4 linked regions of the Homo sapiens genome follow. The protein of the gene in region 4 purifies or fractionates together with the protein of the main gene of each other region. This does not show direct contact. Each region holds a gene or a part of one and is shown on either strand. Other genes may lie near its edges. The genes, in order: HNRNPM, YBX3, H1-10 and DOT1L.

Evidence for each region.
Region 1: the proteins of DOT1L (region 4) and HNRNPM purify together in Homo sapiens (affinity purification with mass spectrometry; 2 studies listed by BioGRID, with this or other methods). This does not show direct contact.
Region 2: the proteins of DOT1L (region 4) and YBX3 purify together in Homo sapiens (affinity purification with mass spectrometry, with the first as the bait; 2 studies listed by BioGRID). This does not show direct contact.
Region 3: the proteins of DOT1L (region 4) and H1-10 purify together in Homo sapiens (affinity purification with mass spectrometry, with the first as the bait; 2 studies listed by BioGRID). This does not show direct contact.

Annotation. Positions count from the first base shown.
Region 1 is NC_000019.10:8,461,945-8,469,163, reverse strand, and holds part of HNRNPM (heterogeneous nuclear ribonucleoprotein M), read right to left. Parts: intron 6,636-7,219; coding exon 6,583-6,635; intron 5,668-6,582; coding exon 5,660-5,667; intron 5,572-5,659; coding exon 5,478-5,571; intron 3,841-5,477; coding exon 3,649-3,840; intron 2,930-3,648; coding exon 2,776-2,929; exon of another isoform or gene 2,550-2,775; intron 1,663-2,549; exon of another isoform or gene 1,630-1,662; coding exon 1,580-1,629; intron 391-1,579; coding exon 330-390; intron 1-329. UniProt on the Homo sapiens protein: Pre-mRNA binding protein in vivo, binds avidly to poly(G) and poly(U) RNA homopolymers in vitro. Involved in splicing.
Region 2 is NC_000012.12:10,713,162-10,720,380, forward strand, and holds part of YBX3 (Y-box-binding protein 3), read right to left. Parts: intron 5,983-7,219; coding exon 5,919-5,982; intron 4,961-5,918; coding exon 4,927-4,960; intron 2,623-4,926; coding exon 2,533-2,622; intron 173-2,532; coding exon 50-172; intron 1-49. UniProt on the Homo sapiens protein: Binds to the GM-CSF promoter. Seems to act as a repressor. Also binds to full-length mRNA and to short RNA sequences containing the consensus site 5'-UCCAUCA-3'. May have a role in translation repression.
Region 3 is NC_000003.12:129,314,206-129,321,357, forward strand, and holds H1-10 (histone H1.10), read right to left. Parts: upstream 2,082-7,152; 5' UTR 1,698-2,081; coding exon 1,056-1,697; 3' UTR 566-1,055; downstream 1-565.
Region 4 is NC_000019.10:2,215,877-2,223,095, reverse strand, and holds part of DOT1L (histone-lysine N-methyltransferase, H3 lysine-79 specific), read right to left. Parts: intron 6,816-7,219; coding exon 6,331-6,815; intron 6,142-6,330; coding exon 6,006-6,141; intron 5,325-6,005; coding exon 5,178-5,324; intron 2,989-5,177; coding exon 2,874-2,988; intron 1,121-2,873; coding exon 537-1,120; intron 1-536. UniProt on the Homo sapiens protein: Histone methyltransferase. Methylates 'Lys-79' of histone H3. Nucleosomes are preferred as substrate compared to free histones. Binds to DNA.

The sequences.
Region 1 (7,219 bases), 6.2 Mb from region 4:
TAACCAGTATCTTCTGAATTAGAGTGCAGCCTGGTTTTCATTCCCTTCACAGGTTCTGATTCTTCCTTCCCCAGGACACTTTCAAAATGCCTAACCACATCCTCTACATCCTGGTATTACAATCCTAGGATTACCATGAGGTAATCCTAACAATATCCTCAAGTTGTGAATCTCTGCTCATTTCTCACCCTGAAAAATCTATAGAAAAGAACTGGCCAAGAGAACTGAGGGCTAACCTGGCACAGGTTCAAGTGAAACCATATGGTAATTTTCTGTTTATTAGTGTAACTCCAATTCAAACTCTCAGCCCTAATCACTGAAACACTTACGGGGAAGTTGTTGTGGACGCTCAGGAGGGAAGAAATCTCCTTTTGGTAAGGCCCTCTCATCCTGAAAGAGAAAGAAAACAAACAAATCTCAGTATCCAGTGCAGCAGTGTTTGCAACAGCAAAAGACTGAAATGGCCCCCCATCAAGAGAGGACCAGCTAAACACATTATCCACGCCATGGAGTAATACGCAAGGGTAGAAAGGCATGCGGAGCATGCTTCCTATTTTATGTCAAGGGAAAAGACACATGGATATTATTGTGGGGGATGATGGGGACCTGGGCAAGAAGTCCAAGTAGGACTCACACTATCTTCACACTACCTTTTCATGCCTTTTGACTTTTGAGTCACGTGAATCTATCATCTATTCAAAAAACTTACCTACTCTATTTAGAGTAATGAAAAAATTGCTTTATAGTTTATCTTTTTCCTGAATTTGAGTCCCAACTAGACTGCCCTCAGCATGTTCCAGTCATGCCTGTAGTAATTATTATCTTTGGCACAGTTACGGCAGAGCAAATGTTTATTAAGATTGAAGTGCTCCAACAGACCTTTAAAAGCTGTCTGAATCAATGACTTAATTATGTTCACAACAGATTTGATGCTAACCAAACATTATACTGTAATACTTTGAAAAACTGGAACCCCACATATATAACCATTCTTTGAAACGGATCACTTGCTCAACCAGGATACCCAGGTGACTTCCTGAATGCGCCATGAACAGTCAACTGTGCAAAAGGAAAAATATCTAATGCAGTCAAGAGCTGCCATGAGCAAAATGTTTTTTTTTCTTCTTTTTTTTTCTTGAGACAGAGTCTCACTCTGTTGCCCAGGCTGGAGTGCAGTGGCACGATCTCGGCTCACTGCAGCCTCTGCCTCCCACGTTCAAGTGATTCTCCTGCCTCAGCCTCCCGAGTAGCTGGACTACAGGCGCGTGCCACCACGCCCGGCTAATTTTTGTATTTTTAGTAGAGACGGAGGAGTTCCACCACGTTGGTCAGGCTGGTGTCGAACTGCTGACCTCATGATCCGCCTGCCTCAGACTCCCAAAGTGCTGGGATTACAGGCGTGAACCACCACGCCTGACCAGCAAAATGTTATTTCTCTCACAATTTTGCTCAACATACTGCACCCTATTTAACTTAGACTAATCCACAAATATTTCATAGTGGCTATATGTACACTCTTATTAATTCCATGTTTTTGCTAGACTTGAGTATATCACAGAGAAAGATCCTACTGACTTACCATCTTGACGTGCATTGGTCTATCAAATAGCAGCTGGCCATTGAACATAGCTGGTATTACAATTAAGGCTATTTCTTGCAATTCTAAAAATGTGCACAAGAGAAATACAAAAAGAAAGAAAAATACTCCAACTGCTACCAGTCCCTCTAAGTGATGAATTTATGAGCAATTTCAATTCTTCATTATACTTTCAACAATAAACATAAAAGGAACAATAAATAAAGCTGGCGGGGAGGACAAGACAACTTCCGCTTATTCCTTAGGTGTGAAGCTTCATTCGTAACCTTACAATTTCACCAAACCATCCTCTTAAGCAGTGGCATCAAGGTTCTCTGAATGTGACCAATGGGCCAGGCATCTACCACTATCTAAACTGAAGGACCATGTTTTCTGGGTAAGACATGCAGTGACGGTCTTGTCTGAGTTGTATGAATGTGCTCCTGTGGGGTACTCTCCAAGGGATTAAAAACTCTAGGCTAAGCCTAGGGTCAAGGAGAAGTGGCCTCTTCCAAAATGATGTCTACTCACTGGAAAGAGTGAGGTCCTATAAGGATGTATTACACATGAAACAACAACCCCACTTTCTCTCTAGTAGCACATTCTTTGGACTTCCTCCTTCAAACCTAGACTCTTCTGAAAAGAAAACAGTAGAAAGACTCATGGGCATATGCCCATGTTGTAACCATCCCCTCTATCCACACTGTATTGAATCAATTCCACCCCCAGAGAACCTTTTTTTTTTTTTTTTTTTTTTTTGAGACTGAGTCTCACTCTATCACCCAGGCTGGTGGTGTGCAGTGGCGCAATCTCGGCTCACTGCAACCTCCACCTCCCGGGTTCAAGCGATTCTTGTGCCTCAGCCTCCCGAGTAGCTGGGATTACAGGCACCCACCACTGCGCCCAGCTAATTTTTGCATTTTTTAGTAGAGCCGGGGTTTCACCATGTTGGCCAGGCTGGTCTCGAACTGACCTCAAGTGATCCGCCCGCCTTGGCCTCCCGAAGTGCTGGGATTACAGGCGTGAGCCACCGTGACCGGTCCGGCCCAGAGAACCTCTTAATTCCACAGTAATGCACTCCCCCTAGTCACATAAAAAACATGAATACACACAGTCACCTCTTCCTCACACAAACCTACATTACTAACACAGCAATTTAGGTCAAACTGTTCATAAGTTGAATTCCTGCAGAAGGATACATATAGCTTGCACAGCTTCAATGGACTGTTCAAAAGTAACAGTGCCTATTCCACGACTTTTTCCATCTTTATCTTCAAGAATGTCTGCTCGGACCACCACACCAGCCATACTAAATACTTCCTTCAGTTTCTTCCAGCCAACTTTATAATCCAGCTAATCGAGAGAGAACGGGGTAAAAACCTCAATGTAAACATCTTAAGAAACACAACATTTTTACTACATGAATGATACATGCTTTGGTTGGAAAAAAGTATTAGGAAATAATGTCACAAAAACTAATCAACTGCAATGGAAATTTTAAAATAGGATTATAAAGCCTGGCCTTCACTGTAAATAAACTGTACCTATAGTAAATATATTGTCTCTTTTCTCAGAAACTTAAGTCACCTCATACTTCAAATTAATACTCATTTTCTGAACATTTTTAAAAAATTGTTTCCCTGATAAGCTTTACCACTCCCCACCCCACCCAACCTACTTTATTCTAAAAATATTTCCCCTTGCAGATGGTGGAGGTATTATCATTCACCCCAGACACAACAAGAGGAAGGTGTCAGTGCACTTCTGCTCGTACAGTCTTACTCTGCACCAAAACTGCATAAAATAAACCAACGGAGAATGCAGACTCGGTTACTGCTTGCGGAAACACCTGCGAAACTCAGGAATCACAGCCCCAACGAGACCACGGTCAAGCCTGTGACTTAGGAATGCAGACAAAGCCCGCCTATAAGGCTGATTTTTAAAGAAATCAAGAACAAAACCCTTCTTTACATTTTTCTTCTCAAATGTGAGAATTACTTTTATAACATATTGACAAGGTCATTTCATAAAGTTCTGATTTTCTACTTTAGACGATGGTTCTGTTTACTTACATTTGCTACAAATACTGTGCTTCCAAGTCTTCCAGCCTGTAATGCATGGATAATCTCATTTGGGATGTTGGGATTATTTAGGATACTGGGTGGGATAGTAATCATTCCTGGGCCACCTGGTCCCATACCCATCCCACCAGTCGTAGCCATCACCTTTTGCATTGCTCTCCTGGCATGTTCACCATCAGGATCCTAAAACAAGCACAAAAGGTGTTACGTTTAACTGACCCAGTACAACGCAAACCATGCTTGCACAGTAAATGATATTCTCAAGACTTAGAAACTGAAAGGTTGTTTGGAAAGCATCTCTCAAATCTATTAACAAGAAAGTCAAATGAACTCAACTACCAGCTTAGAAGAGTCCAGCTAAAGAAATAGGAAAGGAAGAAAAGGCATGAAGTGTAGCACTAAAAACACAGCTCTCAATTGCACTAAGTAAAAAAGAAAAGCAGGGTAGGGAGGGAAACATGATTAGCTGATATAATGTAGAACCGCCAGACTGAAATTAGAGCTTCATGGGCTTGGTATAGCTGAATCTTACTAATTCATCAATGGGGTTTTGTAACTTCTGCAAACCCCGTCAATGGCTTCCAGAAGTTTGAGAAACAGTTCTAGACCACACAAGCGCCCCCATCCTTCAAGTCCTTCAGGTGTTGGAGGCGTGTGTGTGAGGGCTGCGCAGTAAAACAACATCTGGGAAGGTCTGTGAAGCTCTGTACTGACTCTCTTCTTCAACTCTCTGTCCTGTCAATTACCACCATCAGCACTAAAAAAGACATCATAACACATGAGAGACCTTAGACCCTACCAAGCTTCACTCTGAATCTACTCATCTTCCTCCCCAAGAGAAGAGGTGAAAAGAAGTTAAGAGGGATGTTTTTTTGAGACAGAGCTTTGCTCTTACTGCCCAGGCTGGAGTTCAATGGCGCGATCTCGGCTCACTGCAACCTCCGCCTCCTGGGTTCCAGCGATTCTCCTGCCTCAGCCTCCCGAGTAGATGGATTACAGGCACCCCCCACTACGCCCAGCTAATTTTTTGTATTTTTAGTAGACAGGGTTTCACCATGTTGGTCAAGCTGGTCTTGAACTCATGACCTTGATCCACCCACCTCAGCCTCCCAAAGTGCTGGGGATTACAGGCGTGAGCCACTGCGCCCAGCCAAGAGGGATTTAATCAACAAAAAAACCTTCTTCCTCAAGGAATATATTTGATTCAGATGAGATGTGAAAGCAGGTTTGAGGAATAACAAACTCACTTTATTTTTTTATTTTTTAGACAGGGTCTCACTGTTGCCCGGGCTGGAGTGCAATGGTGCAATCTCAGCTCACTGCAACCTCCACATCCTGGGCTCAAATGATCCTCCTGCCTCAGCCTCCCAAGTAGCTAGGACTACAGGCATGCGCCACCATGCCTGGCTAATTTTTGTACCTTTTGTAGAGAGGGGGTTTCACCATGTTGCCCAGGCTGGAACAAACTCACTTTTTAAAAAAAGAAAAAAGATGGGCCAAGAAGAAGGGTCAGATGGAGTAAAACTTAATGGCACAAACCCACGGGCTCATGGTTTGAGAGTCCCTGAGACAACAAGGCCTCAGACAAATCACAGATATTAGAAGGTGGTCAGCAGCCACTCAGGATCTGCTTGGCCACCACCCCAAAGTCCTTGCAGGGAATGGCTGCTGTAGGCTATGACCGACACTCTTCATTAGAAACAACAGGCTGGCACTTGCTTTGTAAATGCCGTCTGGGACCATGACCGTCTTTCCCTAATTCCAAAGTAGGATCACTCAACAATTACACACAGTATCCGCAGTGTTAAGCAAGAGCTTACTTCTTTGACTTTCAGTGGTCTTCCGCTCAGACTATGCTTGTTTAGGACTTCCGCAGCTTTTTTCATGCTCTCTTCCATCTTGAATTCAACAACACTATAGAGTCAAAAGGAAACGAGTCGAGTGAAACCAGTCCTACAAGTTAGAAGGCTCAAATACCAATAAGTAACTAGACGATACTTACGCACATCCCTTTGGAGGAAGCCAGAGACCAGTCAGAAGAGCAAGGAAGGGGAAAAAGAAAAGAAAAAAATAGTAAATATCAATGACAGTTATAAACAAACTAAAAATATGATTTATGTCACAAAGTTAGTCTTTTAAAATGAACCCTTCTAAGGGGAAGCTGACAGAAGTGCCTCGCCTCGCCTTCCTTGTTAAAAGCTGGGCTCCTTAATATCTCCTTCTCCTACGCGTTACCAGCATTGCACTAGAGCTGCTGACATTTAATAAGCAGACCTAAATTCAGGGTCTCCAAGAAATCACACCAACTTTAGATCTGCTTCCCTCTGTACTCAATCGAGTCCTTACCATATTCCTCCTAAATCCATCCCTTCCGTAAGTTAAGCTCATCCTTTTGATTATTCTAAGCCATTCTATTGCACGACAGAAAATAGTTTATGTTCTCTTTAAACTAGGCCAATTTTGAACATTCAGGTTTTTAATATTTGGTTTACAATTTACTGGCACAAAGGCAACTTTTCGGAATCTTTGGTTCACACAACTTTCAAATTCAGCAAACAACCAAGAGTAACATTTTCTAGACAAGAACACACGTTTTACATTAATTATACCACCGCTAAAATTCCATGCATAATTCACACACAGCCAATTCCTCTGTTAACAAAGAGACAATGCTGCTATTGGTCCCCAGTTATCCAAATTGGGCATCCAAACAGAATACCAAAAAGCTCTTTGGCCAGCCATTTGGAAAAGCGGGACTCCCATTTGCAAATCCCCTCCCACCCCACTCAAATGTTTGGCAAAATCAAACATAGCTACTGTAACATGAGCACTCACTGCCTTCCTGATTTCATTCGATTCCACGCCACCATACAGTTACATTTTTCATGTAGTAAATCCACAGAAGAAATTCTCTCAGACACTTACCCTTGACTTTCCTTCAGCGTCCATTAAGAGCTCCACGTATGTTACCTCACCAACTACAAATCAGTTTCCAGACGACACATAAACCAAGGGAGAAAAGCCAAGAAAACAATGGGAATTTAGAACAATCATCAGCAACCTTGTATGGAGCCTCTGCCTTATAAGAAAGCCCAGAAACACTCCATATTCTCTAAACCACCGAACTAGGCATTACAGGTGTGCAGTAAAAGTAGGTGAAAACACGTTAACAATATGTCCTTGATTTTCCTCCCACCACAAACAAGCTATTCCACAGATTTCCGTATCAATTTCCCTGTCTGGAAGACTCATTCATGACTAGAGGCAATCCAAATCTATAGGAAAGAAGTCTGCGTGATTTACTTTTCTGGGGAAGGGAGGAGGTTTTACACATACGCTCTCATTGGTGGCAAGCAGGTGAAATGCATACAAATTGCGATGCCATCGGGCTGAGCTCACATGCTATAAATACAAGGACGCACGTATGCGAAGGTATAAGCTCACAGGCACACACGGCCGCAGGGCCAGCTTCACAGGTGAGCAACTCGTGCAATTGTACAGAGCCCCGCACTCAGGGGCCCTGAGCTTGGTTTAATGCTGTTATCGCTGCCATGACATTCTT
Region 2 (7,219 bases), on a different chromosome or scaffold from region 4:
ATGCATGAACAATTTCTCAATCACTGGTTAAGTAACAGAGACAACGTACATTCCGGGGAGGGCCACGGCGCCTTCCATAGTAGCCACGTCTGTAACGGCGCCGATCTGCAGCGTAACGACTCCCTTCCACAGGAACTCCATCCGGGCCAGTCACATTGGCAGCTTCTGCACCCTGAGAAGAAAATAAAAAGATGGCCTCAAAATTAAAAAGAATATACACTAACTCAAAAAACAGCCTTGGACTGCTAGAGTATAAGACTGGCAGAACATACTAAGAATTCCCACTGTGATTTTAAAAACAGATCTAGGTTTTAAACAAAGTGAGCAAGGTACTTCACATCCTGATTTAAACATATATGGCTTGTTTGCTCATACAACCTGAGTTTTGCTTTCTTGTCTAGTAATGTCAATCGCAAAAGCAATGTGTAACCTCTTTAAAGAACATAAATTAGCAAATATACAACTGTCAAAGTAGAAGCAATGCTAGACCAGGAAGAATATTCCTCAATGGGAAAGACTTGAGATACTGTTATTTTCCTAGAATGTGTTGAAACCTATGTTAGTCTAGGAGGTACCAAGAGGACAATCCCTATTCATGGGCTCATATGATTCTCTGTCCAGCACAAAGGTACTGAGTGAAACTTCTCCTATTTTGGCAGCAACAAGAAGAAAGGGTCTTTGATGAATAATATTCTCCACACATGTAGTCCTTCTTTAGCCTTTCCTATTATCCTTGAAACAGATTTAGAATTCTTATTCTCATATGGACAAATGGAAAATGTTTCAAAAATGTTAAAAAAATGTAGACCAAGAAGATTTCAGAGAGTGTATTTCACACCCTACATCACTTTGTAAAACCCTGAGTTCTGAAAACATACAGAAGAAAAATCAACCCAAAACAATTTTTTAAAAATTGGATGGGATATCAGAGATCCTCACAGAGTGGCAGGTGCTGGTGAGTGATTTGAAAATCTAAAAGACTTACAAGATACCCTGGGGATCACACCGGTAAAGATAATCACTTAAATTTCTGCATCCAATGAAATAAATTGTTTTTCTTTTAAAACACAATGGTTTGAGAGCCATTAGGAACATGACCTATGGAATGGTATATGTGTATATGGGAGGAGCACATACAGGGAGTTAACCTCTCATCCAGTTAATTTATAATTCAGCTGCCATGATTAGCTGCCATGGCAGTTGTGCTATATGTAGTTTTAGCGTGTTTTTAATCTTACTCAATATTGTTTTACTAGTATCTATAACAGACTAAACACAAAGCATAAAGGGCATTACAGACACGGAATTAAATATATAACAGTATTAAAAACTTCTGTAGCTAGTCTTCAGGAAAATCCCTTAACTTCTTGGATTCAGTTCACCCGGACGAAGCTATCTTAGGGTCTATCAGGGTACCTTCAGCTTCCCAAAATCCAAGCCAAACAGAAAACAAAATGATTAATATTCAATTTCGATCTCCTTTTATTGGGATTAAAATATTCTTTACCATGTATTATTTGTAGGTAGAAGTGCTTACAAGTCAGCCTGAAAACTTTACTTTGATAAAAGAAATCTTTTGCCCCAAAGCAGTTTTTCTTTTCTTTTTTTTTTTTTAAAAAACGGAATCTTGCTCTGTCCCCCAGGCTGGAGTGCAATGTCTCAGTTCACTGCAAACTCCACCTCCCAGGTTCAAACGATTCTCCTGCCTCAGCCTCCTGAGTAGCCGGAATTACAGGAGTGCGACCACACTCAGATATTTTTGTAATTTTAGTAGAGACGGGTTTCACCATGTTGGCCAGGCTGGTCTTGAACTCCTGACCTCAGGAGATCCGCCTGCCTCAGCCTCCCAAAGTACTGGGATTACAGGTGTGGGCCACCACGCCCAGCTGCAAAGCACTTTTAATATATTGTTAATACATAAGATAGTTAAATTTTAATCTGCATTTCGAAATACATACCTTTGGTATAAAAATATAAATTATTTTTAAATTGAGAAATCAGCTTTTCTTTCCATAATCAGAGTTGATCATTTATTAAATAAGAAATTAAAGTATCTTTATTGCAGAATGTTTATAATGACAATGTCAAAAATATTTCTGCTAGCTGGGTGTGGTGGCTCACACCTGTAATCCCAGTACTTTGGGAGGCTGACACAGGTGGATCACCTAAGGTCAGGAGTTTCAAGACCAGCCTGGCCAACATGGTGAAACCCCGTCTCTACTAAAAATACAAAAATTAGCCGGGCGTGGTGGTGGATGCCTGTAATCCCAGCTATTAGGGAGACTGAGGCAGAGGAATCACTTGAACCTGGATGGTGGAAGTTGCAGTGAACCAAGATCGCGCCACTGCACTCCAGCCTGGGCAAGAGGGAGACCCCATCTTAAAAAAAAAAAAAATTCTGTTTAAAAGTCACTTCCTGCTATTGTACAAAAATTCCAAAGTCATGTCAATTCATAAGGGGCTGATAGATAATTTATTGTGCAACAGTACTATGTGCCAGCACTTTGATACCCAACCACAATTTCCTCTCACCTTCTCTCCTTCAACCACATCAAACTCTACAGTTTCTCCATCTCCTACACTGCGCAGATATTTCCGTGGGTTATTCTTCTTGATGGCAGTCTGGAAAGAGAACAGAAAATTTTATTCGATGTATATTTCAATATTGGCCACAGATTTCACTGCTTTCAAGTACACCAGAGTGAACTTGAAGAAACTGTTGACCGATTCTTATTTTTCCACCATTCTCCCACTAAGTTGGATCTCCAACACAACAACAAGAAAGCACTATAAAACTATATTCCACATTACTTCCTTGATTTGTGCTATTCATCTTGACAGGTGGATTAAACAGAACATGTTTTTTCTATAACTGCAGTGTGTGCAGTGACTACACACTACTGTTACAGGCTGATCACCTGATCATATCAGATGTATTAATTACCTCAAACCATTAAGCTTCAGAGATTCTCTGAATCTCCGGAGGAGGAAAGGAGGCAGTGATAAAGAAAAACAAATTAAAATGCCAAGGGGATAAATATTTCTGACGAGTAAACAAAATTATCTCAAGAATCAGAACGTATTAGTAATAATCTGGCCTCCCCCCTCTCCTCCCATTTTGCAGATGAGTTAACACGAGGCTAACAGTTAAAGTGATTTATCTGAAGTCACAACCGTAACAGCCCCAGGGATGATGGGGGAAGTGGAGGAGGGGGAATTCATATCCCTGTACTCTACCTATATGATATTTATTCAACTTTTCTCCCATCACACAATTCATGTCAACAAATCCTACATTCCCTGATAATACATTAAAAGGTTAGTGAAGATGCTATTCTTCATTAAACATCTACACCTAAATATCTGCTTATGAATAGGTGCTGCTCTCTCTTGTTCCATCAATGAAGGCAGAAAATAATTCCTGCCATGCATTTCCATTTCTTTGGCTGGTATCTCTAAACAGTTAAAGGGGCTTGCGTTTCTATGGAACTAGGTCAACCTTATTTTATAAAGCGATTAAGCATGTGTAATCCAGCCCGTCCCCTAACTCTGAGTAGGAGGGAAAAGAAATAGTGAGCCAACAGAGCAGAGACCTCACCCATAGAGGAAAAAAGGCAGTTCAGGACAGGCACGCAGCATGAACATTCAGCCATTCCAAAAACAGCCCCTCCCTGCCGGCTCGCTCCCTTTTTCCTGTTAAACTGGGCAAGCCTCAACACATTGAGGTGACTCACCACACAACCTCACGGGGGCTGGAATCGGGTCATATACTCACAGGCTAATAAAGCCAGCCACCAATACAGCAACTTCTGAGGACCTTGACTCTAGCAGTCTTCAGAATTCTTACCCTAAAAGGTCTATTAACCTCAAACCTCCAAGTATTATAAACAACACTATTATGACCCTAAAAGTCACTGTATCTGAACAAAATAAATCTACTCAAATTATCTAAATGCAACTGAGATATATCCAGTCAAGTAGAAATATAAACAATAGAAACCACAGCTAGATACCACTATCTCCAACTCCTACGGTCACTCCAATACACACACAAACCTAAACAGAAGGAAACAAAAACACAGAAAATCAGATGTATTCTGGATTTCTGCACTGCAAGAGAATGGGCTGGCATTAGTACCTGCTGCTCTATCTTCCTTATTGTTATACTCTGAGAACGCATATTTCAGACAATTCACTGAAAACTAAATAAACAAAAAGAACACTAAGGATAGTATTCCTTCTCTTAACCTATTTTATAAAGGAAGTCTAGGACATATTAATAACAGAATAAATAACATCCTAGGCTAATAAAGCAAAGAAAAACTGAGGCACCTATAGCAGAGAAGCTCCATATCTTACCCATTTCCTCTATTTCCTGCAAATCTAAGGGAATTTGCAGCTTTTGACCTGGACACGTCCTAACATGCCTCATTTAACAAGAGTGAGGGCTACCCTGGGAACTGGAAGTTTTCTCATCTTACTATCTGCTTCTCTGCGCTATTTACTTCAATTGAGAGCTGCTCTGACAGAGGAGCTTTAACCAATACCTACCCAGGCAGAAGCCAGATTGGCTCCAGGCAAACACTAAGGAGGAACCACATCAGGAGAACAGGATGCTAAAAGGGAAACAGACTTTTCTTTTTTTTGCTAAGGACTCAAAGGCTTTAAAAATTAGAAAGTGGTCTAACCAAATATCACTTTATACAACTGCAAAAATAAAACTATTTGAAAACAGTTAATATGATGGGGTAGAAGAACTTATTTGCCAATCTTAAAATGTGGAACTGAACTCCTGTTGCAAAATAAATCACAGAAAGAGTTTAGATTAAAATAATAATCCATAGGACTTACTTTTGGGAAAGGGCTGACAGAAGATTACACACCCTCTCCTCACATAGCAAATGTAGTATTTATAATCCCTCTTACCTGATGTACAAATACATCTTCTTTGGTGTCATTTCTGTTGAAAGACAAAAAGCTCACAATTAAAGGTAGTACGTATGTGGAAAAACTTAAAAGAACCTATGTGTTATGAATTTAACTCCCAAGTCCTCAAAACACAACATATATTTTCACTTATTTTCTACACTCAATTCAGACACCTAAAATCCTTGTTAAACATTTCTAACTCCACAGGCCACCCACCTTCCTCCTCCACATTGCCACAGTGCTTAGATCCAAGCTCACAGACTCAACATACAGAAACATCCCGTTCCTCTGTCTCTTTCTGAATCACATGGTGTGTAATCAGAGCCTCAGATTTTCCTCCCAGCAAAAGCAAAGCAAGACAGTTAAAAGGACAGGGCACAGCTGTGAACTAGGCTCTCCTTACACTGAAACTTAAAACAGCCCCCCACCCCCACCCCACCAAAGGAGACAAGAAATTGGAGGACTTTAAGAAGGGGTGGGAAAGCAAAGAAAATGCCGATATCATGTGAAAACCTCATAATACTCCCAGCATCTTGTAGTTATGTTCTCATTCCTGTACGGTTAAAAGTTACCACAGTTTACAGTTTCTACATAGGACTGGACCAGAAGTGAGTTAAAGATCCAGCTCAATGACTCACTAGTTGGGTGACCTTAGGAAAGCTGCTTAACCAGTGTAAGACTCCGTTTCTCCATCTGTGAAATTATGGATATGGTCTCATTTATCCTAAGGCCCTTCCCATTTCTGATTTTATCTCCCCCTCCTTTTCTTCCTTAATGACTAGATTTTATGAAATAAGTTATTTATTAGTGTCCTGGAAATGTATTTTAAGTAATATTTAACAACCAGTAGCTTAGAAATGAGAATATTTACAGTGCTTAGAAACCTAAAAAATTTATATAAGCCATTAATGAAGGCTAAGGGATTTATAACTCCTGGTGCCACAATGTAAGTATAAACTTAAAACATGCAAATATACACACACACATACCGATTTATAAATCCATATCCATTTCTGACGTTGAACCATTTGACAGTGCCAAGGACTTTGGTGGCTAAAATAGGATTAAGCAGATAAATTAGTATCTGACCTACAGAGAGATATAGCTCATATCACTAAGATCTTGATAACATTAGACAAAGCCTAAACATACCTAAAGAAACCATTAAAAGCTTAATTCCAAAATACTTTAGAAAAAGAAAATGGAGCAAGCCAAGATCTCATAAGGAAATACTTTTCAGAAGACTAAACCTTTCTTCCTTATTCAACTTTTCAGGAAACTCGCAAGATAAGGAGTGGTTATAAGTCTATACAATTCTGTAATCATTAAAATTGAGAAACACTGAAGGAAAAAAAGAATGTTCAAGATGAATGTTCCAAGTTTTAACCTAGACAAATTTTATAAGTTCAAAATAGGAGCTACAATAAAAGAGTGAAAGACCTTAACACATCACTTTCATACTTGGAAATATTAGGCAAACTTTAATGAGAAACAAGGTGGCTCCTTGTTAACAGGCAATCTACAAAGACGTAAAGCAACTTGTCCAGTCGCCAAGTGGGAGCTCATCAGAGGAGTCAAGAATAATTATAGAACTGCTGCTGTCTCAATCCAGTTCTGTACTTACCACTCTGAGACGTGATATAACAGGTCTTTTCAAATCACATGATGAATTTGGGCTTGTTTCTTTGTTTACCTTGCTCTCTACAGTTTTGCGAATCAAACTTAAGCATTTTTCCATAAAATCCCCCTCTTTACCATAATGGTTGTCTCTACCTCATGAGCAGGACCACTTCTCTACAATGCCTGATTTTAGCAGAATTGAGAGAAGGAATCTAAACAAAATAAAACTTCATGTAACTTGTATTTTGTAGGTTTATATTTATCTCAACTATTTCAAATATGATCTTTGGAATCAATTATGAATGACAAATTCAGTACTTCTAGGAAATGCCCCTGTCTCAATTCAGGAAGTGCAAAAAGCAATTATAAAGACTCAATGAAACAGGAAACCTGATAATAGATTACCTTAAAGAAAAAATAAAGAAAAAAGCCTCAGTAGAGAATGAAAGTAATTATTAACATCAATCCATACTGTCTTTTCATAAGATACAAAGTTTATAATTTCCAAGGATAAACAATAAGGCTTCACTTTTAAATTCAAAACTAAAATAGTAATTAAGACTTGCTCTGTTGTAGGCAGGGGTAGTTCTGAAGTTTGCTAGACTGATACACTTGGGAAAATACTTTAGCTCTCTTTGTTGGGGGAAAGAAAATCCAAAACAAAAAAAAC
Region 3 (7,152 bases), on a different chromosome or scaffold from region 4:
GCTCCTACTAATTTTCCCAGCAATCCTTTGGGTCCCGTTTGCACTCTAGCTTAACCAATAGGCTCAGAGACAGCAAATACCCTTCTGAGACCACACGTTGGATTGTGGTCAGGAACTCCACTCTCTGGCCACCACACTTCGTCCTGGTCACATCTCACTCTAACCCTCGCTGGAGTCAGAATGACTAAGTTTACAGGCCAGTCTGGTGTGACTTTGTAAGAACTACCTCTCTGGAGGCCAAGTTTAGGTCCCTGACCATTAACTCTGAAAACCCATTAATCCCCCCTCCTCTCCCCTCCCCCATCCCGCTCCCCGCAATGGCCGATGGACCCCCTGTGGGGGCAGATAGATCCATCCCTCCTAAGGGACCGATCCTGTCTATCTCCCTGTCCCAGGTACTTTAAGTTCGTCCCAAGCCAGCAATTCCCACCCCTTGCTGAAGGCCCCTGGCTCCAGGCCTACCCTGGCCAACAGATCTGGGGTATAAGGACCCGAGGGGCCCGCCATCCAACCCCGCGTGCCGAAGGCGCCCATCCCTATTCCACTCAGATTAAACGAGAGAGGCTGAAAGGTTTAAACGCTTTATTGTGCCCAAAAAAAGGCCCATGGAATGAAGGGAAGAGCCGCGCAGCCCTGAGCCCGGAGCGATTGTTTGTCGCGCACCCAAAGGCAAGGAGGGTGGGGAGCTGGGAAAGGATGCGCGGCCTCCGCGTCCCCGCGCGCCTGGGCCCGGCCAACCAGCGACCCCGCCCGGTGGGCAGGCGCGGCCTCGGCCATCGGCGCCTAGGGGCCAGTAACCATGACGACGGCCGTTGCCAAGGCCGAGAGCCAATAGAGGCGTCGCCGGGGCTGTTTCAAAAACCTAAAGCAAACAACGAAAAACGCTACATCGTTGGGGGAGGGGAAAGACTGAGAGGACCCGGGGCCCCTCCCTGAGGCTCAGACCAGGCCTCGCGGCCCCGGCCGGCGTGAGCCGTACAAAATCTACGTCACTTGGGGTAGAAAAACAAAAACACCGAAAAGCCCACGCCGGCCGCTCTGACCGGCCGACACGCTCACTTGCGGCCCTTGGGCACTTTGGGGACGCTGGGCTTGGCCGCCTTCTTCACCTTCTTGCCCCCGGCGGCCGCCGTCTTCTTGGCCTTGCCGCCTTTGTCCTTCTTGGCGCCAGCGCCCTTCTTGTGCGAGCGCTGCTCCGGCTTCTGGCCCCTGGCGGGCTTCTTGTCCGCGCGCCGGGAGCCGGCCGCGCCCGGGGCTGCCTTCTTCGCTTTGTGCGCGGTGGGGGCCGGGGCGGTGGCGGCCGCCGGGGCTCCGCGCCGCTCCCCGCCGCCCTCCAGCTTCTTGCGGTTGAGCTTGAAGGAACCGTTGGCGCCGGTGCCCTTCACCTGCAGAAGCGTGTCGTTCTGCACCAGCGCCTTGATCGAGTACTTGAGGTAGGTGCGCCCATTCTGCTGGTCGAACCACGGAACCTTCTTGGCCTCGGTGTAGATCTTGGCCAGCGACGAGCCGTTGCGCTCGCCCAGCCTACGGATGGTCTCCACCACCAGCTGGCTGTACTTGCCCGGCTGGTTCTTCTTCTTGCTATTCTTCCTCTTCTTAGATGGGGACAACGCCGCCGAGCCGCCAGCCTTGGTCACCTTCTTGGCCATTCCCTCGGCGGTCGTCACTGGCAGGGCCTCCTCGAGCTCCACGGACATGGTAGCAAGAGGATTGGTGGCGGGCGGCGCGCGGAAGCCGGGGGGCCGCGCCGGGAAGAGGAAGGCGAGGGGCCGAGGGGGTGCAGGGGGGCTGGGGGCGCGCGGCGGCTCCAGGCGGGAGCGGCCGCGGCCGGGCCTGGGGCCGGGCGGCAGGGCTGGGGTGGGGGCCGGGCCGGGCCGGAGCGAGGGTTGGGGGGCCCGGAGCCGGGGCCGGACTAGGGGACCGAGTTGGGGGTCAGAGACCGAGTCCGAGCCGGCGGCTGGAGCTGGGGACGTAGACCTAGGCCGAGCCGGAGCGAAGAGAAATCCCGCCGAACGCGAGACACCGCCGCCGCAGCTTCCACTGGCGCCTCTGGAACTCGCTGGGCGTGCGCGCTGCGCTCTGGCGGGAGGGCGCTTCTCTCGGCTTTTTATAGCTTCATGGCGGACCACGTTGAGAACAACAACAGCCTGGTCCGGGGCCAGCGCCAACTTGTGCTTCTTGGAGCCCCTTCTCCGGCCGCTGGCTTCTCGGACCGCGCCTCTCCAGCGCCGCCGCGCCCGCAGCGGGGCGCCCCGGACAGGGCCTGAGCTCCCGGCGCAGTGGAGAGGCGACTTGCGTCCTGGAAGGGCTCAGCAAAGGCGAACGGAGAGGTGCACCCTAGGCTGCGGGAGCGCGAGAGGAGGGGGGCACCTCGTTTGGAGGCCAATAGCGCGGGCCCCAGAGGAGGCCCCACGGCCGGGAGCTTGGCGGCCGGCAACCCAGAGAACGCCACGGGCACCCGAGCCTTGTCCCGGCCCGGGGGGCTCCAGGCCTGCCCGCAAGAGGAGCTTTAATTTGTCCAAACTAACACAGGGCGCGCCCTCACGTGGTCGGCTGGGGCAACGTGAACTGCGCTAGGACATCCTCGGGGGTTTTCCGCCCCATCCAAAGGGGATGGCGGATGGGAGGCACTCTCCAGCTGCACCCCGGGTTCTGGTTGTGCCTCTGGGAGCCTAGGCACAACCCGGGGAATGGAGGACTACGGCAGGACCTCTCTAGGGACACTGCCTCGCCGCTCCCCCCACCCTGTTGCCGCTGATGTTCCCAGGGCCTCATTTTGTAATCCACAAGTAGCTGCCGCCGGTCCCCCCAAAGCCAAATGGGGGCTCCAGGGTGGGACAGGGTGGGCGGGGGTGAGGCTGTGACACCCAGAGGAATTCCTGTGAGAGGATGGGGAAGGGATTCGCTCTTAGTTCCTGGGTGCACCCCTCCCCCTCTCCCGTGCACAGGGAAATGATGGCGGGAACACAGCAAAGGAGACCATGTCCTGGAGAGGGTCCCGGGCCCCACCCTCCCCGGGGGGGCTTGTGCAAGGCTGGCGGCCCGATCTCTGCTGATTCCAGTATTGGGGGTGCAGAGAAGGCACAGGACAGTTTTTGTTGAAGCCGTTGCAGCCTCCACTTGGGGAAGCTGAGGCCAGGGTAAGATGCTCGGGTAGGAGAGGGGATCCCTTTGGGGGTAGGTGATGTAGGGCACAGGAGTGGGGCTGGGGCTGGGGGGTGGCAGGGTTGCAGGCAGGAGACAGTCTCCAGAGGCCCAGCATAGAAAAGCGATGGAGGGGTGAGGGGGGACAGGACGCTGGCGAATTGGGGTTCCCAGAGTGAGAGACAGGAACATTTACAGGTGGACAGAGTAAAAGGCCCTGAAAAGGGGGTGGGTTGGTGCATTTGTGGCCTTGGGCCCAAGCAGGCTTCTCTGGGTGAGGGCTAGCAGCACCTCCCCTCTTCTCCAGCTCACCCCTTTCACACACACACACGCCCCCCATTTTGTCACCCTGTCAAGGGAATAAACCCCAGAGAGGAAGAAATTATGTCTAGGAGGAAACGGTGAGCCTGGATGGGTTTTTTAGGGGGGAGGCTGGCAGGGGCATGGAGCCAGGAAACAGCCTTCGCCCCCCAGAGCACCAGGTACCCTGAGAAAAGTGAGAAGAGAGATTGCAGCCCAGGTCCCTGCAGAGGAGGATGGGCTCCTTTCCCAGGAAGGACTGGCTGAGTGGACTGTCTCCAGGGCACAGGACAACGTTGAGGGCCTGAGGCCTCCACCTTCTTGAAGAAGGACCATGTGAATTTCCTGACAGAGAACGGGGATGGGTTTCTGAAAGCACCACCCAGCTGAGCCTGCCGAAACTGCACAGCTGTTTCCAGGCCAGGCTGGCTGCATGGAGGACGTGAGAGGAACAGCCAGCTGTGTGTGCTGGGCCCACTGATCAGGGTGCTCAGGACCAGGAGCCTTCTGAGGATGTGCAGAGGGGACTCTGGGGAGAGGAACATGGTGGCCACAGCTGGAGTGACCGCAGTGTACAGAGATGGGATGGGAGCAGGAAACCCAAAAGAGCCGGCCCTGGAACCAGGTGGAGGGGAGGCAGCCCGGCCATGACCCAGAGCAGGTGATATGATTTGGATCTGTGTTCCCACCCAAATTTTAGGTTCAGTTTTAATCCTCAGTGTTGGAGGTGGGTCCTGGTGGGAGGTGATCAGATCATGGGAGTGGATTCTAATGGTTTAGCACCATTCCCTCGGTGATGTCCTCATGATGGTGAGCTATCATGAGATCTGGTTGTTTGAAAGCGTGTTGCACCTCCCCTGACTCCCTCTCTTGGTCCCGCCCCTGCCATGTAGGACACCTGCTCCACTTCACCTTTTGCCATGAGTAAAAGCTCCCTGAGGCCTCCCAAGAAGTTGATGCCCTGTGCTTCCTGTACAGCTGCGGAACCGTGAGCCAATTAAACCTCTTATCTTTGTAAATTACCCAGTCTCAGGTAGTTCTTTATAGCTTTGTGAGAATGGACTAATACAAGGGGCTTGAGCTTGGGTCTTTTGAAAAGTTAAAGGGTGAGCAGAAGCGATACCCCTGAAGGAGTCCCAGCCATGGGCAACAGGGCCATCGCTTGGCCTTTTGTGCAGCCACCGCAGGGGGGAGGAGTGGCATGCTGGACATGCCACTCTGGAGCTGGCTGCAGCCACAGGCTGGGCCAGGGACACTCCTGGGTCATCTGTGCTGGAGGAAGGGGATGCTCTAGTGGAGACAAAGGGACAGGGTCACGGAGGAAGGCGGGACCCAGGTGTGGCCTCCTTCATGACATCTGAGGAGAGGAGATTCGAGAGAGGAGGGCTGGGCACCGCAGCCAGTACAGCCACTCACAAAGTAGAGCCGCAGTCCGGGCACTGAGGAGAGCGGCCAGGCTCGCAGCCACGGTGCCCCGGGGGACCTGGCTGGGACTGCAGGGGAGAAGCAGTCAACACAGGGCTGGAGCCCTGTGGGCAGGGCAGTGCTGTCCAGTCCCGGGGGGAGGACACGGAGGATGCAGCTCAGACCCCACACCAGCCTTGGTGGGCACACGGGCTGGGGGCCGGCTCCTCAGCCTGTGAGGGGAGCGGGGCTTTTGTCAAGAGGGAGGCTGCCTGTGGCGCAGGGCTCAGAAGACTAATTCTAGACTTTGGGAGCTGGCATAGACTAAGTGGGATCTTCCACTTGCCCTCATGATATGGTAGAGGCAACTGAGGCTTGAGGAGGGGGTTAGCCAGGAGACCAGGACTCAGGCTGGGGTCTTGCAGCCTTCAGGGTGCCTCTTACCCCCACACTGCTGGTCATCCCTTCTGCATTACCCCACCAAGGAAACTGTAGGTGGGGAAGGTCCCAGGTCCTCAACCAAAAAAAATGGCCAAATATGAGAAAAGGAGCTTCTGGAAGTGGCCAGGGCCTAGCAGAGACCAGGGCAAGACCATGTGCCCAGCACCTGAGTCGCGCCCTTCCCTGGGCCTGGCCAGTCTGGAGGAGGCTCTGGCTTGTGAGCAGTGGGGTTTCTGGGGTCGGAATCTGGAAGGGGCTCTGTGGCTGCTGGGCTCTCTCTCTCCTCCTTATCTAGGGGATTGTTCAGTCCTGGGGCTGCAAACACCACCAGTACCCTGATGATGCAGTTCATTTCCCTAGCCCGAGGTCAGCCTCTCTCCCGTGCAGACCCCAGCATCCCGCTCCTCTTGCCACCCTCACCTGGAGCCTGGGTGTGGCCAACACAGACCCTGCTCCTCCCAAACTTTTGCCAGTGATTCTGCCCAGAGACAGGGACTGCTCCCTGATTTCCCTACTCTCTTCCAACCCATGGCTTCCTCCCCATCTACCCCAGAACTGGTCCCACAGCTGCCGAGCCCCCACCCTCTCTACCCTTTCCACCCAGCCTCCTGTTCTGTCCGCACAGCCCCAACACAGAAGTCTGAGTGGTGGGTCCTGGCTCTGCCAGAAGGTCTCTAATGGCTTCTCACCAGACGTAGGGTAAAGTCTCCCAATGCCTTTGCCACTGGCCCCTACCAAGGCTCTGACCGCAGCTCCCCAGCTGAGCACTCAGCCTCATAGCCTTTTTTGCTGCCCACACATACCCAGAGGGTTCTCAGGACCTGGGACTTGCTGGGGTGGCCCCATGGCTGGCTCCTTCCCTGGCCGGCCTCCCTAGACCCCTCCCTAGGGCTCCTACCAGAGCACCCTCCCTGCCTGGCTCACAGCCCCTGCCATCTAGTATGTCCGTTGAGTTGTGGGCTGTGAGCTAAGTGCAGGGTGGGGGAGGTCATGCTCCTAGCTGTACCAAGGCGGGGTGGACACAGTGCGCTCCCGACACAGACACACCTGCAGCAGCAGCGGATGGGAGGATGGGGGTCAGGAGCTCCTGGCTGGGCTCTGACCCGGGCTGTCCTTCAAACGCTGGGTGTGATCCCTTCCCCACCACCACTGCCCAGCCTCAGTCTCCCAGTTTGTATAAAGGGGCTGGATGTATGGAGTCTGAATGATCCAGCTCGACAGTCTGATTCTGGGCTTCCAGACACACACTCACCATTCACACCTACAGTTCACACACACAGACACCTACTCACTCACACTCAGATTTACCTTCACACACGCTCACCATTCACAGCCACAGTTCACACCCACAGACACCTACTCACACATATTTACCCTCACACATGCTCACCATTCACACCCACACTTCACACTCACACTGATACCTACTCAGTCATGCTCACACACACTCACACCATTTACACTTACAGTTGACACACGTACACATCACCTACTCACACACAATTTACCCTCCTACTCACATGCTCACACACCATTCACATAGTTCACATTCATACACACACCTACGCATCCATTCACACATATATGCACACACACTCATACCCACACATTTATCCTCACACATACCATTCACACCCACAGGTTCACACACATTCACCTACTCACACCTGTCATCCTCTCATTCACATGCTCACAAAATGGTCACACAGTTTACCCCTCACACCCACACACTAACCCATTCACACTCACAGATTCGTACACATACACCTACTCAGACACATCATCCACCCATTCACGTGCTCACACACACATGTTCACACAGGCATGTGCCCTTCACACTCATAAGCTCACCATCACATACCC
Region 4 (7,219 bases):
CCCAGAGCCCCCCATGCCCCCTCCTGATGTGCCCACCACCACTAAGGCCCCACAGCCGAGAATGAAGAAGCTTGCAGGCAGCGCATCGCACTCCGAACCCCAGAGACAGCTGTCGGCCGCCTCTTCCCAGGCTGCCAGGCCGCACGTGGTGGAGGATGGCCGGGCTCAGTCATGGCCCCCTGCCTCCACCTGTTTTTTTTTGTGTTTTTTTTTGTCCCCCCGAGAGGGAGTCTCGCTCTGTGGCCCAGGCAGTGGCCGATCTCAGTTCACTGCAAGCCCCGCCTCCCGGGTTCACATCATTCTCCTGCCTCAGCCTCCCAGGCACCCGCCACCACGCCCGGCTAATCTTTTGTATTTTTGGTAGAGACGGGGTTTCACCGTGTTAGCCAGGATGGTCTTGATGTCCTGATCTTGTGATCCACCCGCCTCGGCCTCCCAAAATGCTGGGATTACAGGCGTGAGCCACCGCGCCCGGTCTCCCTCTGGTCTTTCTTTCACAGGCCGCGCTCCCCAGCCCTGCCGGTCCCCATCCTTACCATGGAGTTGAGGTTGAGGGGAGACCCCGAAGGCTGTGTGAAAAGGCCAGCGACGGACGGCAGGGCTCGGCGCTTGGGGGACACGCCTGCGCTCAAGCTGGGCGTCCCCGCAGATGCTCGCTTCCGCCGGCCGCGCCTGCGACTGTCCTGCCCGTGGCTCGGCACACAGTCCCCACGGGCGCTGGCGGTCAGGGGGCTGTGCTTGCTGGAGGGCGACTGCTTGGCACTGCCCGCACCAGTGGTGATGGTGAACACAATCCTCCTCTTGGCTTCACTCTCAGGATCTGAGAAGCCGGAATCGGAGGGCAGGTCTCCCTTGCTGGCCTCGGGCAACGGGCCCTGGGCGGCCCCACCAAGCCGGGGACTGGAGGAGAGCTGGTGGGCGGGAGAGGCAGGAAGCGAGTTCCGGGGCTGTGCCAGCAGCAGGGGGTGCTGTGGCGTGGAGCTGCGGGACCCCACGGTGGCAAAAAGGCTCCCAGAGCTGGAGGACTCATCCAAGGTGGCCGGCTCGGCTCCAGGTGTGAGAGAGGCCGGGCTGCCCGCCAAGGCCCCGCTGATGGCCACCGAGCCAGCGTAGGAGAAGCCTGCCGGGAAGGACATGGGGGTCTCAGGGGACACAGGATGGCCAAAGAGAAAGCCTTGCTGTGGGAGCACCACCCCCTAGGAGCTCTGTGGGCTCCAGGAGAGGCGGGGAAGTGGGGAAGGGGTTGGGAGTCTGAAAACGGCCCCTCTGGGGTGGAACCAGAAGGCTCTGTGGGCAAGCTCAAGGCTCAGGGCTGACCCTGTGCCTCCTCCCGCCCATCTGGGCTGCCTGTGCCCTGCAGGTCCCGGCTGAGACGCTGCCTCCCAAGAAGCCTCCTGGTGCGGGCTCCCCGCTGAGCTAGGCTTCCTCTGAGTAAGTTGCCCTCTGGCCCCGTGATCTCAGAGACACCATGAGGAAAGCCCATGGCTGCGTGGCCTCCCTCCCTCCTGTTCTCAGAAGACAACTCAGCTTGGATACTCCAAGCTATGGCCGCCTTGAAGGCCGCAGCCATGCTTCCCAGCCCACGATGAGTGGTGCACTTCCATGACCACCCGGGGACAAAGGGCGGCCTCCCTGCTTCTGCCAATGAGGCCTCAGTGCAGGGGCGCAGCAAGGCGCTTCTGGAGTTGGCTGTTTGCCACCCAGTTGAAAATCTCCTGAAACTGTCACTGCCTCTCGCAGAGCAGACCTCACCCCAAGGGCACAACCCAGCCCTGCGAGGGCAGAACTGCCCGGGCTTCGGTGGCCTCTCCAGGGCCCTCACGTGGCCAACCGTGAAGCCTGCCCAGCCTCCCTAGAGCCCCTCCTGTCTCAATAGCGGCCATGTACATTTTACTTGTTTTGTTGTTGTTTTGTTTTTGAGATGGAGTTTTACTCTTTTTGCCCAGGCGGGAGTGCAGTGGTGCGATCTCAGCTCACTGCAACCTCCACCTCCCAGGATCAAACGATTCTCCTGCCTCAGCCTCTCGAGTGGCTGGGATTACAGGCGTCTGCCACCACATCCGGCTAATTTTTGTATTTTTAGTACAGACGGTGGTTTCACCATGTTGGCCAGGCTGGTCTCAAACTCCTGTCCTCAGGTGATCCGCCCACCTCGGCATCCCAAGGTGCTGGGATTACAGGCATGAGCCACCACGCCCGGCCACATTTTACTTTTTACTCCTAAAAAAGTAGCTGCCGCATCATACCGCATCTCAACCTGGGGCCAGCAAACCAGCCTGGGGGTCTCATGTCCTCTGCTGTTTTAAGTACAGTTTTGCTGGCACACAGCCATGCCCGCTGACATGCTGTCTCTGCGGCTTCCACAACAGACAGGCCTGCAGTGTCAACAAAAGCCAAAGTGGCATCCTCTCTGGCTCTCTGCAGAAACTGGGCTAACAGCAGAGACTGCTCAGGCGGCACCTTCTCAAGGAACCAGAAACCATGCCGCTACCAGCACGGAGGCCCACGGTCGTGTGCCATTGGGCACTGCTGTGTGTGGAGCCGATCCTGAGTCAGGGGCCTCCCAGCTGTGAGTACAGGAGCCCCCGAGAGCACTGGGGCCGACCTCACGGGCTGAATTAATACACCCAAGCAGGAGGTGTCAGTGTCGGGAGACCCAGGTATGAGGCCGAGATGGCTGCAGCTGAGCCCGATCCGCATCCCAGCTCGTGGGATGCAGGAAAGGGTGTCAGTAATGAGGCGTGGCGGTTTGGGGCAGCAGCCCCCATGATCACCCCAGGAAGCCCTGTTCCACTCCCAGCAACCCAGCCCTCCTGCCTGAAGAGCAGCAGCAGCAGCAGAGTCCTGAGGGTAGGGCACAGGAGGGGCGTTACCTGCGGGGGCCAGGGCAAGGCTTCTGCTCCCAGCACCGTGGGCATTAGCACCAATCTGCTTTTCAAGTGTGGACGAGGGGTCACGGGGCTGCAGCACGGGACTGGGGGTGCTCCTCTGCAGAGAGAAAACCCTGTGTGTCAGGGGCAGCAGGTGCCCCAGGAGACCCAGAACCCAGCTGGAAACAGTGAGTGTTGAGGCCTGCAGCTGGCTGGGGGAGGCCGCCGGGGTCACCGTCCAGTACCGCGTGGGAAGAGGGCAGCGGGGGAACTTGAGCGGGGCCCCAGGCGAGTGGCGCAGCGAGAGTGCGCGGTGCCTGCGTGTGAATGGGCAGCGGGCCTGAGGCAGGGAGGTCAGGAGGCGGGGGTCCCGGGGTCCAGCTGTGGGGAGGGGGTACTGGGCACAACCCAAGCAACCCACAGCCCGCCCTCACCGGGAAGCGGCTGTGTTCTCCAAGCAGCACAAATGCCAGCAGTCGGGTGGGGTGAGGAGGGCGCTTGCGAGAACACACCTGCCGGCCACCACCCACTGCACTTCCCCACACCACACTCCAAGTCCAACAAAGGTCAGTAGAGTGACCGCAGAACCCAGTAGCTCCACTCCCACATGGGCCAAAGAGCAAACCTACATCCACACAGAAACCTGGACCCCAGCGCTCACAGCAGAACGATTCACAATCGCCAAAACAGGGAATCAAGCCGGGGTCCATCAACTGGGCACGGATGAAGATGGCACACTCCATCCACACAGGGAATGCCCTCACGTGCCAAGAGAAGGGACAGGCCCAGACATGAGCGTGTTCGGGGGCCCGGGGGCTGGGGGACGACTAGGGAGTGACTGCTGAGGCGGGCAACGCTTTTTCCCGGGTGAAGAAAATGTCCTGAATTAGACAGAGGTGTATAAAAGTACAAAAAACCGGCCGGGCACGGGGGCTGACACTTGGAATCCCAGCACTGTGGGAGGCCGAGGCGGGTGGGTCGACTGAGGCCAGGAGTTCGAGACCACCCTGGCCAACAGGGCAAAACCTCCACCTCTATTAAAAATACAAAAATTGGCCGGGTGCGGTGGCTCATGCCTGTCATCCCATCAATTTCGGAGGCTGAGGTGGGCAGATCACCTGAGGTCAGGAGTTTGAGACCAGCTCGGCCAAGATGGTGAAACCCTGTCTCTACTAAAAATACAAAAATCAGCTGGGCATAGTGGTGCATGCCTGTAATCCCAGCTACTCGGGAGGCTGAGGCAGGAGAACTGCTTGAACCCAGCAGGCGGAGGCTGCAGTGAGTAAAGATCACAAGATCGTGCCACTGCCCTCCAGCCTGGGCAACAGAGCAAGACTCCGTCTCAGCTGGTGGGGGCGGGGATTAACCGGGCGTGGTGGTGGGCACCTGTAATCCCAGCTACTCGGGAGGCTGAGGCAGGAGAATGGCATGAACCTGGGAGGCAGAGATTGCAGTGAGCCGAGATCACACAATTGCACTCCAGCCTGGGGGACAGAATGAGTCTCCATCTCGAAAAATAAAAAAAAAGAAAGAGGCCAGACGTCGTGGCTCACGCCTGTAATCCCAGCACTTTGGGAGGCCCAGGCGGGCGGATCACTAGGTCAGGAGATCAAGACCATCCTGGCTAACACGGTGAAACCCCATCTCTACTAAAAATACAAAAAATTAGCCAGGCGTGGTGGCGGGCGCCTGTAGTCCCAGCTACTCGGGAGGCTGAGGCAGGAGAATGGCGTGAACCCGGGAGGTGGAGCTTGCAGTGAGCCGAGATCGCACCACTGCACTCCAGCCTGGGCGACAGAGTGAGACTCCGTCTGAAAAATAAAAATAAAAAATAAAAAATAAATGCTAAAAACCACTGAAGCATATACTTGAAGCGCACAATTTTTAAAAAATAGTTCAATGCCCAGAAAATCCCGCCCATGCTACACAAGACGAGATTCTCTGCATGCACAGCGCTGGGTGGGAGAACCCAGAGGCAGCTGTGAGGACAGGGGCCACGGCAGCCAATGTGGCCTCGTGAGGAGTGAGGCTGGGAGCCAGGGTGGGCCTCTGAGCTCCTCCTCAACCCAGAAGGTGTGAGGCCCTCTCCACTTGCACACGTACCTTTCACCCAAAAGAAAAAGACTGGCGAAAACAACGGCCCAGGTCACCGGACACGCCCCGGCTTTGGACAGCCCACCTTGACTGCATTGCCTCACGCTCGACATTTTACAGCGTGAGACTTCGCAAAGTGAGCCAGGTCTCGAGCACCCCAGACTGTTTTGCCTCAACGTGGCCCTTGGGGACAGCCACCTGGGAGCCACTCACCGCCCTCTCGGCGCGGCTGGGCAGCACCACGCTGGCCAGGGGAATGCTGACCGGGAGCTTGTTGGGCTGCACGGTGCTGAGCGGGATGCTGATGGGCAGGCTGGTGATGAGCTCCCCGCTGCTGCCGTAGGCGCGCTCTCTCAGGCCCTGCAGACGAAGGCCCGACCCCCAGTCGTGGGTCAACAAACCCCTCCAGGACACAGGGACCACAGCCACAGGACGGGGGCCTGCTACAGCTCTCTCAAGGCGGCCCCCACGCTGCCAAGGCCCTGCAACCTTCCCCACGCAGTCAGGCCCTCCTGGACACCGGCTTTGGGACACTCCAGAGGGACGGCACGCTCCTGGTGTCTGAAAGCAATGCCCATCTGTCCCCTCCAGCCTGCCCGCCCGGCTCGGTGGGCAGTCACCCGTGGGGCCACCAAGCCTCCCAGGGCCCACATCCATCACTGCCAAGTCCATGCAACGTCACCGTCCTTCCCTCTCCATCCCTGTGCACACAGGCCAGTGCCCCCGGGGAAGTCCTCATGGGCAGCGGCCTCCCAAACTGGGCTCTGTGTCTCTACCAGCACTTGCCGTCCGTCACTGAGAACTAAGAGGCATCAGGGACACCCTGACAAACCCCATGTCCTCCATGGCACCTGCCCAACGTCACCTGTGACCTGTCCTTACTGGTTGCCCCCAACTCTGCCACAACATCCTACTCCAGGTCAGCCCCAGTACCTCACCGTGCCCCAAGGTCAACTAGGACAAGCCCTCCTGCTAGCAACTCGCTCAGGCCGCCTCTGCTGAGCACCTCCCTGAGCCCGGGGCAGGGGTCGCGGCCCGCACCTTCTCACTGCTCTTCTCTCCAGCAAGCTGCAAGGCCCCAGGGGACAGGGGCCGCGGGTCCTGAGGGCTCAGCTTCATGCTGCCAGGCACGCTGGGGCTCTGGTAGGGAAGGCCGTTCTCCTTGGTGTGCTCAGCTCTGGAATGAGAAGCTGCAGTCACTCTCGAGGGCCGTGGGCTGGCACTCAGAGGCAGCGGCCTGGCCCAGCACCTCCCCACCTCAGTCTCCTCAACAAACACACTCCTGCTGAGAACCCGACAGCCTGAGCACACCAGGCAGAGTCGGCAGGTACCAGCTGCAGACCCCCAGCCCCACCAGGGCACTCACCTCGAATGCAGCTCACTGGCAGCCGGCCTGCCGGGCACCGTGTGGTCCTGGCTCAGGTGCCGCCTCAGCACAATCTTGGCCGGGGACAGCCTAGTGTAGTCGGGTGCGGCTAGGCCAGACAGCTTCTCCAGGCGCGGCCGGCCGACGTGGCTAGGGGTACAGGGCACCACCTCCTGGTCCAGGGGTGAGGCCAGGTACTGGGGCGTGTTCTGCTTCGACGAAGGCCGGCTCAGCACACCGCAGAGCTCATAGCCAGCAGCCTGGCCGTTCATGGAGAGCTCCGGGCTCATGCTGCTCAAGTGAGGCAGCGAGAACTTGGTGCAGTCCAGCTCCAGGTGCAGCCGGCTGGCGTCAGGCTCCAGCTCGCGGCCCAGGGCGCCCTTCCCACGCAGGTGCAGGGACAGGGCGTCGTCAGGCGGCACACAGGACTTGAGCTGCAGGAGCTCCTGCTGCCGCTGGCTCTTCTCTAGCTCCACAATGCTGATCTGCAGGAGGAGAGATGGTGTCAGGCCCGCCCCACCGGGGGACCACTCCAGGGAACCAAGACTGCCACAGATGGACACCCGGAGGGGTGGCCAGGACCCCCGCTGCTTGTGTGGGATGGAAAAACCAAAGCTGCCGACCACATAGAGGCGGGGTCGGGAAGCTGGGGGCGTCAAATAAAGTCATGTGGAGGGCCGAGGATGGTTTTTGCTGACATGGAAGCACCTTCTTCAAAAAGAGCAACAGGAAGATACAAAGAGCTCTCGTCTCTCAAAATAGACTCTAAGTGTAAAACATCCAGTTTCACTAAGTGTAAAACCTGTGGAGGGACACGCCACTCGAGCGTGGCAGCTTCCCCGGGCGCTGAGTCTGAGAGGGGCTTTTTCCTTTTAGTTTATCTGTTCTG